2 linked regions of the Homo sapiens genome follow. The protein of the gene in region 1 interacts with the protein of each later gene in a pairwise test. Each region holds a gene or a part of one and is shown on either strand. Other genes may lie near its edges. The genes, in order: SHOX and SOX5.

Evidence for each region.
Region 2: the proteins of SHOX (region 1) and SOX5 interact in a two-hybrid assay, tested with the Homo sapiens proteins (one study listed by IntAct).

The regions. Positions count from the first base shown.
Region 1 is NC_000023.11:647,517-652,108, forward strand, and holds the end of SHOX (short stature homeobox protein), read left to right. Parts: 3' UTR 1-4,068; downstream 4,069-4,592. UniProt on the Homo sapiens protein: Controls fundamental aspects of growth and development.
Region 2 is NC_000012.12:23,533,492-23,540,789, reverse strand, and holds part of SOX5 (transcription factor SOX-5), read left to right. Parts: intron 1-4,120; coding exon 4,121-4,337; intron 4,338-6,267; coding exon 6,268-6,571; 3' UTR 6,572-7,298.

The sequences.
Region 1 (4,592 bases):
GTTTCGGCCTCCCGAGTAGCTGGGATTACAGGCACCTGCCACCAGGCCTGGGTAACTTTCTGGTATTTTTAGTAGAGACAGGGTTTCGGCCTCCCGAGTAGCTGGGATTACAGGCACCTGCCACCAGGCCTGGGTAACTTTCTGGTATTTTTAGTAGAGACAGGGTTTCAGCCTCCCGAGTAGCTGGGATTACAGGCACCTGCCACCAGGCCTGGGTAACTTTCTGGTATTTTTAGTAGAGACAGGGTTTCGGCCTCCCGAGTAGCTGGGATTACAGGCACCTGCCACCAGGCCTGGGTAACTTTCTGGTATTTTTAGTACAGACAGGGTTTCAGCCTCCCGAGTAGCTGGGATTACAGGCACCTGCCACCAGGCCTGGGTAACTTTCTGGTATTTTTAGTAGAGACAGGGTTTCGGCCTCCCGAGTAGCTGGGATTACAGGCACCTGCCACCAGGCCTGGGTAACTTTCTGGTATTTTTAGTAGAGACAGGGTTTCGGCCTCCCGAGTAGCTGGGATTACAGGCACCTGCCACCAGGCCTGGGTAACTTTCTGGTATTTTTAGTAGAGACAGGGTTTCGGCCTCCTGAGTAGCTGGGATTACAGGCACCTGCCACCAGGCCTGGGTAACTTTCTGGTATTTTTAGTAGAGACAGGGTTTCAGCCTCCCGAGTAGCTGGGATTACAGGCACCTGCCACCAGGCCTGGGTAACTTTCTGGTATTTTTAGTACAGACAGGGTTTCGGCCTCCTGAGTAGCTGGGATTACAGGCACCTGCCACCAGGCCTGGGTAACTTTCTGGTAGTTTTAGTAGAGACAGGGTTTCAGCCTCCCGAGTAGCTGGGATTACAGGCACCTGCCACCAGGCCTGGGTAATTTTTTTGCATTTTTGGTAGAGACAGGTTTTTGCTGTGTTGGCCCGGCTGGTCTCAAACTCCTGACCTCAGGTTGACCTGCCCGCTTTGTCCCTCGCAAAGTGCTGGGATTACAGGCGTGAGCCACCGCACCTGGCCTGAATCTGAACTTTTAAAAGGGAGTTACTGACTCTCAACTGTGCGGGGACGGTTTCAGTTTGATTTAATATGGAAAGAGGGCCAAGTGTCATCCTCACAAATGGGTCCCCGAAGCAGATCAAACGCAGAGAACTGTGAGGGTGGGACACGAGTGTCTGTGGACACTGGCTGCCTTTGGCTTTTCTCCTGCGAGAGAAGTTGGGTGACTTTCTGTAGGTGGATGAGTGATCCCTGAATGAGTGTGGGGTACGTGTATGCTAGCTGCTTCTTTCTCCCTGAAACTCTCGGATGGAAGGAAGTAAGAAATTCAGCTTGGGCTGTGACCAGTTCTCACCACCAACGCCCTCTTCTCTCTCCCTTCTCCTTCCTTCCTTCCTTCCTTTCTTTCTTTTTCTTTCTTTCTCTCTTTCTTTCTTTTCTTTCTTTCTGTTTCTTTCCTTTTTATCTTTCTCTCTTTTTCTTTCTCTTTTCCTTTTTTGTTTCTTTCTTTCTTTTTCTTTCTTTCTTTTTCTTTCTTCTTTCTTTCTTCGATGAAGTCTCACTCTGTCACCCAGGCTGGAGTGCAGTGGTGCAATCCCAGCTCACTGCATCCTCTACCTCCTGGCTTCAAGAAATTCTCCTGCCTCAGCCTCCCAAGTAGCTGGGATGACAGGCACCCACCACCATTCCCGGATAATTTTTGTATTTTTTAGTAGAGACCGGGTTTCGCCATGTTGGCCAGGCTGGTCTTGAACTCCTGACCTCACATGATCCACCCGCCTCAGCCTCCCAGAGTGCTGGGATTACGGGGTGAGGCACCGCGCCCGGCCTCCTCTCTCTTTTTCTGAGATGTTTAGGAAGGACTGGGCTGATGGGGACCCTCTGTATGTGATGTGCGTGGGTTTGGTTTCCCGGAAGGCCCTCCAGAGACACGTTTGCGTGAACATTCAGCATGGAAACAACATACGTCTCTCCACAGGAGGTGAGAAATTGAATTTATGGGGTGGGTGTACGCTGGCGATTCTTGGTGCTTTTTGCTCAAAACAAGGTTCTTTTGAAAGTCACGTTCCTGCTTTCCCTGTGGCTTCCCGGTGAGCTCGCTCGCAGAGCAAGGAATACCACCCAGAGAGCAACGTGGGCTGTGTTCCGATGTAACGCCGTTGCAGAGAGAGGATTTGGTGTGTGAGATCCGTACCAGCTCCAGCACACTGATAGGAACACGTTGCTGGCCGAACTGAACGATGCTGGGTTGGGTCCTGATTGATACGTATTTTCTTCCCTCCTCTCCCCAAAACTTGGCCAAATAGTCCGTGGAGGGTTGTCAGTCGCCGCAGTTGAGCAAAAAACACTTCTTCCTTTGAGTGGCTGTTCTGGTGAAATCTGTTTCTGACATATCCACTTTTCTCTCTCTTTTCTCTCTCTCTGACTGCGAAGCACCCACAGGGAGAAGGAATTGGATGTATCGGATGTTGCTATTAGATTTTCTTTCTCCGTTCGAGTCTCTGACTGGTGCATACTTTGCAAAGGTGTGTTCCTGGCAATTGCCAAGAGTTAGAAAAATGCACCTTCTCTGGTGGCCGTTGGGGTGTTGTTTCACAGGCAGTGGTGACAGGGCCCCTTGGCTGTGGCTGTCTTCTCCAGCGCCGTGGATAAAGAGATGGGACAGATTCTGTGCCTCTGTACGATTTAGAGCGTAACTGACCGCGTCCAACACCCGTTTTTCCACTTACAAAGCTGGTGGTGCGACGGGCTTGGTGTCTCCCGTACGGGAAGGAGGCCTTTGGGCCGCTCCAAAGACGCCCTGTCGTAGGAATGGCCTCTCCATCCCGCCAAAGTCCAGCCAGGCCCCCGAAATGGTCCCATTTCCTTGGAAGCCTGAGTTTCTGTTCTGGTCTTGCTGCTGTCCTTGGCCACGTCAGCACGTGGGAGCATCTGTGGATACCGCAGAGTCTGGGGACAGCTGGGCGTTTAACCGAAATGAAGCCGAGACGGGTTTCAGGTTTTGGTGCCAAGCTCTGGTCAGGATGAAAGGGAAATACCAGAGTCCTCTGTCCTCGCCTCTGGGTTTCATGCTGACCTTTCTAACATTTGTTTTCCCCTAAGAACAAGCAGAAGCCTCCAGCTCCCTTTAGCTCCACAGTTTTCCCGGGGACATAGCGAGGATGGCACACGGCAGCCACTCCCACGACACACATTTCGGAGGCACTTTGCTGGAAGCCGCTTGTCTCCTCCAGCTTTGGGAGGTCTGGGGAGGAGAGAGGCTTTCGGTGGACACGTTTGACATTAAAAAAAAAAAAAAAAAAAAAAAAAAACTGGTGCCTAATTTATTAAAGAGAATTAGCTTAGCGAGTATATGCTGATATTCTTCGACACACGTGGGTAAGTTGATGCCATTTATAAATGTTTTATTGAAATTTGATATTTAATGAGAAGCCGGTTAAGGAATGTAGACAATATCCCGTTTCAAAGCTATGAAATGTGCTATTTATTGAAAGGGGATGTGGCTTCACGAGTTCAGCCCATTGTACGTGCAGGTCCCGTGGGAAGGAGGCAAAAGCCCCTGCTTCTTACTTTGTGATGTATGTGCATTTGTTATTTATTTTTTTTTCCTTGGTCGGACGTTCATAAATATGTACTATTTTAATTATGTCGAGTGTAAATTTGACATCGCGTTGCATTTATTTTTATATTTCTGAAAACTGTTGCTTTTTCTTTTTCCCTCCCCCATTGACGACATAGCGGCCCCCGCGTCCGGGTTACAAATACATCTACAGATATTTTCAGGGATTGCTTCAGATGAAAACAAATCACACACCGTTTCCCAAACCAACAGTCTTCACATTTCTATCCCTCTGTTATTGTCGGCAGGCGGTGAGGGGTAGAAAAAAAACAAACAAACAAACAGAAAAAAAAACCAAAAAAAACCACCCTGAGTTTCTCTGGTGACGCCCTCATTCTCCTAACGTTCAATAATCTCAATGTTGAGTTGCAGCAACAGACTGTATTTTTGTGACGCCCCGTAGTATGAATGTACATCTTGTAAAACTGAGATATAAATAAACTTATAAATATTTGTATTCAAGTGTTAAAAAAAAAAAAATTCTCAACCTCTCCCCTGAGGACAGGCTTATTGGAAAAAAAAAAAAAAAAAAAAAATCCTGAGTCGGCCGTGGCTGAACACAGAGTGTTGTTCTGCTCCGTGCATTTCCAGGGTGGGTACCCAGTGTTGCCCCCCAGCCTTAGATCGGGAGGTACCATTGACTTTTGCTTGTATCCCATCCCCTTCCTTTACTGAAACCTACCTCCCCGCTTCTCAGCCAACGTCCCCCCAGAAGGTGGCAAAAAAAACAGAGGAAAAAGCCCTGATTTGAATCAAGTCAGAGCTGCTAATTCTCCACTTTCTTTAATTAATTAATTTATTTTTTTTTTTGAGACTGAGTCTCGCTCTGTCGCCCAGGCCGGAGGAGTGCAGGGGCGCGATCTCGGCTCACCGCGACCTCCGCCTCCCGGGTTCAAGCGACTCTCCTGCCTCAGCCTCCCGAGTAGCTGGGATGACAGTCACCTGCACCACCGCGCCCGGCTCATTTTTGTATTTTTAGTA
Region 2 (7,298 bases), on another chromosome or scaffold:
GGGGATCGTAGTTGACATTTTAAAGGGCTTCTAAGCATTTTATAATACCCTAAAATCTGGTTTTAATAAGCCATTCTGCTGAAATTGTTAACATAAGGAATCACCTTTTACTGCTTGGCGCTAGATCAGGGGAAGAGGGACATCTTTTTCTGATTAGATATACAGTAGTTTAGTTGGAGTAAAATGTGCAAATTCACTACAGACCCCACGGAGATGACAATGTTGCCCAGCGCAAACTCTTCACTTTCAGTGTATTGCCAGATTTAGAAAGGAAAGGAATAATCGTTGGACCTTATTTTTTCCCCTATTTTGAGCATCAAATACTTTTGATTGAAACTTCCTCTTTTGTCATCAGGAGGAAAACCCAATTGTCCTTCTCTGCTTTTTATTATTATTATTATTATTATTATTATTATTATTATTATTATACTTTAAGTTTTAGGGTACATGTCCACCATGTGCAGGTTAGTTACATATGTATACATGTGCCATGCTGGTGTGCTGTACCCATTAACTCGTCATTTAGCGTTAGGTATATCTCCTAATGCTATCCCTCCTTCTCTGCTTTTTTATTCTAAAACGACAACCTTTTGAAAGCAGCAGGGAATGAATAAACTCCCTGTACATCAGTCCAGAGTAAGCAGCCAGCCACCCCCAAATCAAGTAGATATTTTTTCTCTCTTTTTTTTTTTTTATTGTTGTTTATCCAAAATATTTTCCTGCCATTCTCATCAAGTATGTTTCAGGGGTTAGTTAACACCTCAGCTGCATACAATGGTTATAGTACCTGCAAAGCCATTGAAATCAAAACCAAACTTGTCAGTTGGTTAAGCTAATTCAAGGTTACTATTTTGAAAATGAAAACTGGATTTACCACCAAATGGAAACACTGCCCTGTACTGTCATAAAATATAGTAGTCAGTCAGCCATTTGACCCGGTTAGTACTTAGCCTATCTTTATTCTTAGTTTTGAAAAGACTTGGAATTATTATATGGCCATATTTTAAAGTGTAATTTAGGATTCAGTGATACTCTCAAAGAAATTATACTATCAAGAGTTAAACTATTTTATAATTCCCGTTCATGCCAGATTTGGAAGCCAACTTATCTGAGAATTTACACATCTTTTATTATCCCATTTCTTTACATACACGCATCTTTTTTTCCTCTTTTTTTTTTTTTTTAAGCCAGACCAGCTTTCTTTAAGTTAGTCTAACTCCTCTTTCCACCGAAAGACCTCAACTATTATATTCTTCCTCAATAGGATGCTCTTCTCTTTGTGAGCCCCACGGGAGTCATTTCTACAGCAAAGCCTTCCTGACCTGCAGAGGATTGATCTTGCCTCATCATATTCTCTTACCTTCCTGTACTTTCTACAACTATAAGGAAAATAATAAATTTTGTAATTAGATATTTAATGTATATTCCCTGACTGAATATAAGCTGCAAAGAGACAGGAACTATAACTTTCTGTATTCACTCACTACTATATATTTATTAAGGAATGAATGCAACATTATGTACATAGTAGGAAATATACAAACAAACAGCTCTCGCATTCCAAGGCAGATTACTTCTAAGCATAAACATTTTCTTTCCTTTGAGAGGCCAAAGCCTTTTGGCGTATAGATCATTTAAACTTAGGGAAGAATCTTTGGCAATTCCCCTTCTAATTGAAAATGCTTGGCCAGGAGTGGTGGCTCACACCTGTAATCCCGGCACTTTGGGAGGCCGAACCGGGCAGATCACGAGATCAGGAGATTGACACCATCCTGGCTAACACGGTGAAACCCCATCTCCACTAAAAATACAAAAAAAAAAGCTAGCCGGGCGTGGTGGCGGGCGCCTGTAGTCCCAGCTACTCGGGAGGCTGAGGCAGGAGAATGGCGTGAATCCGGGAGGTGGAGCTTGCAGTGAGCCGAGATCACACCACTGCATTCCAGCCTGGGCGAAAGAGCAAGACTCTGTCTCAAAAAAAAAAAAAAAAAAAGAAAATGCTGGTTTCGTTTTCGAATTTTGGGATAAAGCTAGCTAATAAATTTTATATTAGATCAACCATCCTTGATCCATTTATCAGTGTATTCCTATTTGTGAGTTATTTATGGTAAGCTCACTTTCCACTCCCTGATCTGAAGTTCAAAAAACTGGTATAAATGCTTGGAAGAAACTCAATGAAAACGGTTGTTCTAGTTCAATAGGATCATAACCATATCTGTGTTTATATAGGCCCTGAGAATAACATAATGGTATTCAAGTATCTTCAGAGAATAATGCTGGGCCAACAAGGAGTTTGAGATTGTCCCTACAAATGATATGGCTTGACCAACCAACCTAATGTTGGATGATGCTATTTAAACAGAAGTTTACGAAAGGAATAGAAAAAGAAACTCTATTATTTGCACTGTAACCTGAGTTTATACTGTAAATAGAATAAATTCACATTGGCTTTCTAGATTTGGAAAAATCTATATTTATACCTATGCAATACAATATCTCTTCCAATGGTAACATTTCTAAGGGAAGAGATATTGCCTCTTTCACTGTATGCTTTAATAAATGTAACAGCCCATATTGAGGAACTCTTTACATGTGTAAGGAAGAACTATTCAACAGTGAGCTATTTGCATTTAAGATAGGGAGTTACGGGTGAGTAATGAACTCATTCGAAAGATTCTAAGATCTTACTTAGATGACATTTGAAGGCAGGTATAAGGCCATTTGGTAGGGATATCCTAGTTCCAGTTTATCGGTCTTTGTGCATTCGCGTTGAGTTGAGATGACTATTTGCAGATAAACACACTTCATCTGCAAATAGATTTTTAAATCACTATTAAAAAAAAAAAAACGCTATTACTACTGAGGGCTGCCAGCACGCTGTCACCTCTCAATCCGAACATCAGAAGGAACAAACTCCGGACACACCGCCTTTGAGAACTGTAACACTCACCGCGAGGGTCCGCAGCTTCATTCTTGAAGTCAGTGAGATCAAGAACCCACCAATTCCGGACACATTACCACTTCTATTACACATAGCCATACTGACAGAATCCAAGTTTTAAACCATATCTAAAATGTGAATTAGCATAAACTATTTTTATTTAAGCTTCAAACTTGTCTTTTTTAATCCCAGCTAAATTCACACCAAAATTAATAGTGAAAAGAAAGGGGGAAAACAATTTGGGTTATTATTACTAAAGCAGACTGTATCATGGGAAGTGACGTCTTTGTATGTTATTGAAATTGATTTATTAAGAGAAAATCGTAATACGCATTTACAGTAATTGTGACCTCTGCTATATTTTGTATAGTAGGTGGCCATATGTAGGAAAGGGCATACATTATAGCACAATTTAAGTTATATCAAATCTGAGTTTGAGTCACAGATCTGTACTTCAGTAATTATGACCCTGGCTAAGTTAGTCCATCTATTTGAATCTCAATTTTCTCATCTATGAAAATAGATAGAAATGCTGTCTCTTTTATAAGATTGAGGTGAAAGGTAGGAAAAAGACATCAGTATGTCAAGGTTTCAGCACAGTGTCTGGCACATAGTAGTTACCCACTCCATGTTTATTAATATTATAATTTTAATTATAATTAAATGTTTAATCAAAGGAATTTTTAATTACTACCATTCCTGTAAGCTTAAAATACTTAAACATTTTGGGGAGGATGAGACTACATGATATATGTTGGGAACTTTTGTAGTAAAAAACATCTCCCACATAAAAATATTCAATAACTAGATAATTAGTCTCAGATTCAAAATGCATGATAACATATCATGTAACTTTTCTGTTCACATGTGAATTATATCATGATCTAATGTAGAAATGAGAAATGTATCCATTAAATTATCTATGAGCTTTAAGGGACATAATACAAAAGTTTGGCTAGAATGCAAACCAGAAAAAAAAAAATACTGCCCAGTGTTTATATCTTTAGGTACAAAACCACCACCACCTCTGTTCTTGTGGGATCTCACTAATCAAAAACAGGTTTATGTATTTCTGGGTTTTGGCTAACATCTCAACTTTAGATTTTCTTGTTCTCAGCCATATCACTTTCTGGAATGCTTAGAAGCTGTGCAAATTGGAATCCTAACCTCCTTTCTTCATAGGATCTCGCTGGAAAGCTATGACAAACCTAGAGAAACAGCCATATTATGAGGAGCAAGCCCGTCTCAGCAAGCAGCACCTGGAGAAGTACCCTGACTATAAGTACAAGCCCAGGCCAAAGCGCACCTGCCTGGTGGATGGCAAAAAGCTGCGCATTGGTGAATACAAGGCAATCATGCGCAACAGGCGGCAGGAAATGCGGCAGTACTTCAATGTTGGGTATGTACCTTTTAGTCATTTTTCTCATGGGGCAAACTTCCTGTTATACTTAATGGGATGTGAAACATATTTGTTCAGTTGCAAAAAGACATTTTGAAAAAGAATCTGAGCTCACAGTATTTTCAGAGACAAATAGTCTCCCACATGATCTTGAAAAATATGTCCATATGAATCCACTGCAAGTTCCTAGCTCTACCATGAGATTTGTTAACAACTGGTTTAAAAACAAGATATCTACAAGCAAATGATTTTGAAGTTTTCTATTAAAAACTTAGAAGTATAACTGGTTCTTTTCTTCATTGGTTTGCATTACTTCCTAAGCTTCACCATGATAAATTCTAAAACTAACAACTTTGTTGAGACAATACAAAATAAAAATCATTTCAAAAGCAAAAATACTTATTTCTAAATATAGAGAGGTTAGTGAGCTATCAAGGTACATGTGTGGCCTTTGTGGATCACACAAGCTAGGGATTATATTTAGGGTGTAACAAGGTTGGGAACAGGAGGTTTCATTCTGAATTGAGAACGCAGCTCCGAGATGTTTTACAATGCTCCCGTGGCAAGGTTGTTGACAGTGCTGTAGATGGGCTACAGAAATGCATTGCTTCTATAGAATTCTCTCAAAAACCCAAAATAAAGTTGTTCATATTTGAAACAGAAGTTAGTTTCTAAGAGCTTCTTAGAATAATAAATATTGTTCTAAATATGGGCAGAGAAGGACTCATAAAACCTTTCCAAATCTGCTCTGTCCCCTCCAGTTCCTTGGAAGAGGCTGCATGCTCTGTCCAGTGGTCTGTGATTCATATGCAAGCACATGACTCCTCACAAAGCTAAACACAATGCCCAACAGTTCTTGGGCAAATAGTAAACATACGAATGAATAAAAACAAGCATAAATGCACATCATCTATTCATCCTTTCCAATAGGACCACCTACATTATTTATAGGACCAGATGCAAAAATGAGGAGACAGGGTCTCTTGTTAAAAAGTTATTAAGAATTTCAAGTCTGTGGCAGCACAACTTTAAACCAAGTATGGGACCTTAGTGCAGTTGCACAGTTTGTACATCCATGAAGCTGCTCCTGCTTCCTACCACTACGAGGCCAGAACTGTTTCAGAGACTCAGTGGACAGTGTGAATTTGTTCAGTTCTGGTGTGTTCTGGGCAGTAAAGTTTTATTTTGAGAACTCTAATGCTTTAGGATTTTCCCATTAAAATTTAATTATCTTTAGATTTAATTCTAGGGAAAAATACTATTTCTGCATGTTATAATGAAAGAAAAATGAACTTGGAATCAAGGACCTGGGTTCTTCTGCTTCATCTTTCTGCACCTCAGTTTTTTAATAAAACAGTAGTAACAAACAGGATTAAGAATAAGATGGACAACACATGTCAATATCTTGTACTCTATAAAGCACTACCTAAACATAAGGTATTAGGCCTGGTGCGGTGGCTCACGCCTGTAATCCCAACACTTTGGGAGGCCGAGGCAGGTGGATCACCTGAGGTCAGGAGTTCAAGACCAGCCTGGCCAACATGGTGAAACCCCGTCTGTACTAAAAATACAAAAGCTAGCCAGGTGTGGTGGCAGGCGCCTGTATTCCCAGCTACTTGGGGGGCTGAGGCAGGAGAATCGCTTGAACCCTGGAGGGGGAGGTTGCAGTGAGGCAAGATCACGCCATTGCACTGCAGCCTAGGCAACAGGAGCGAAACTACGTCATCTCAAAAAAAAAAAAAAAAAAAGAAAAGAAAAGAAAAACAAGGTATTAAAGTTCAAGTAGGATGGAGTTTGAAAAATGTTAGGCAATTAGATAAAATTAGTACCTTAGAATTGGACATTGCTGAGCAAATTAATTATGTAGTAAAGTCCACATCTAACTATTCACTTACCCACGATGTCTTTTTGGAAATTCCTTTCTTGACAGGCAACAAGCACAGATCCCCATTGCCACTGCTGGTGTTGTGTACCCTGGAGCCATCGCCATGGCTGGGATGCCCTCCCCTCACCTGCCCTCGGAGCACTCAAGCGTGTCTAGCAGCCCAGAGCCTGGGATGCCTGTTATCCAGAGCACTTACGGTGTGAAAGGAGAGGAGCCACATATCAAAGAAGAGATACAGGCCGAGGACATCAATGGAGAAATTTATGATGAGTACGACGAGGAAGAGGATGATCCAGATGTAGATTATGGGAGTGACAGTGAAAACCATATTGCAGGACAAGCCAACTGATAAGGGTCAAAAGATTGTTGTGACCTTAGGACTTAAAGAAGCCCTAACTGGTTCATCCTTACCAGTGGCCAAGCACATTAACTTTCTCATACACTGACTGTTACTTTAACTGTTAGTCTTAAATAGTTGGGACATCAGCTGACTAATAGACCTCAGCCTCAAAAGGCTTGGAAAGAAAAAACAAATACAACAAGCAAACAACAATATCAACAACAAGAGATTGAAATAAGCTATGGGTAAAATAATGCCAGTAATTCAGCTGCTACATCCAAGCACTGAAGTCTTACCCGTCAACTTTTTTTTTTTTTTAAATAAACTTTATGGCTGTTTGTTCTACAATGTTCTAGAAATTCTCACTCAGGTACACAGTGCCAACAAGTGGCTTGTGAATGTGTTTTGTTGTTTTGTGCTACAATTTTTAAAAAGAAAAAAGTTTTGTTTTGTTTTTTGGGGTTTCTGGGTTTTTTCCTTTTCTTTTTCTTTCCTTTCATTTTTTTTCTTTGTAATGCACCTGACAGAAAAAAAAGAAAAATGAATTTCTCTTTACTTCTCTCCACCTTCTCCATCTCTCTACTTTAAAGATGGAAGTCTGTGCATGAGGGGAAAGAGGGAAAAAGAGCCTGTTTTTAACTTCCTTGCTATCCACCACAAAATAAGCAATTATTTTCTTTAGAGGACTTTATCTATTGCACACCACACTACATCTTTGAGCAAGTGCCAAATTTGT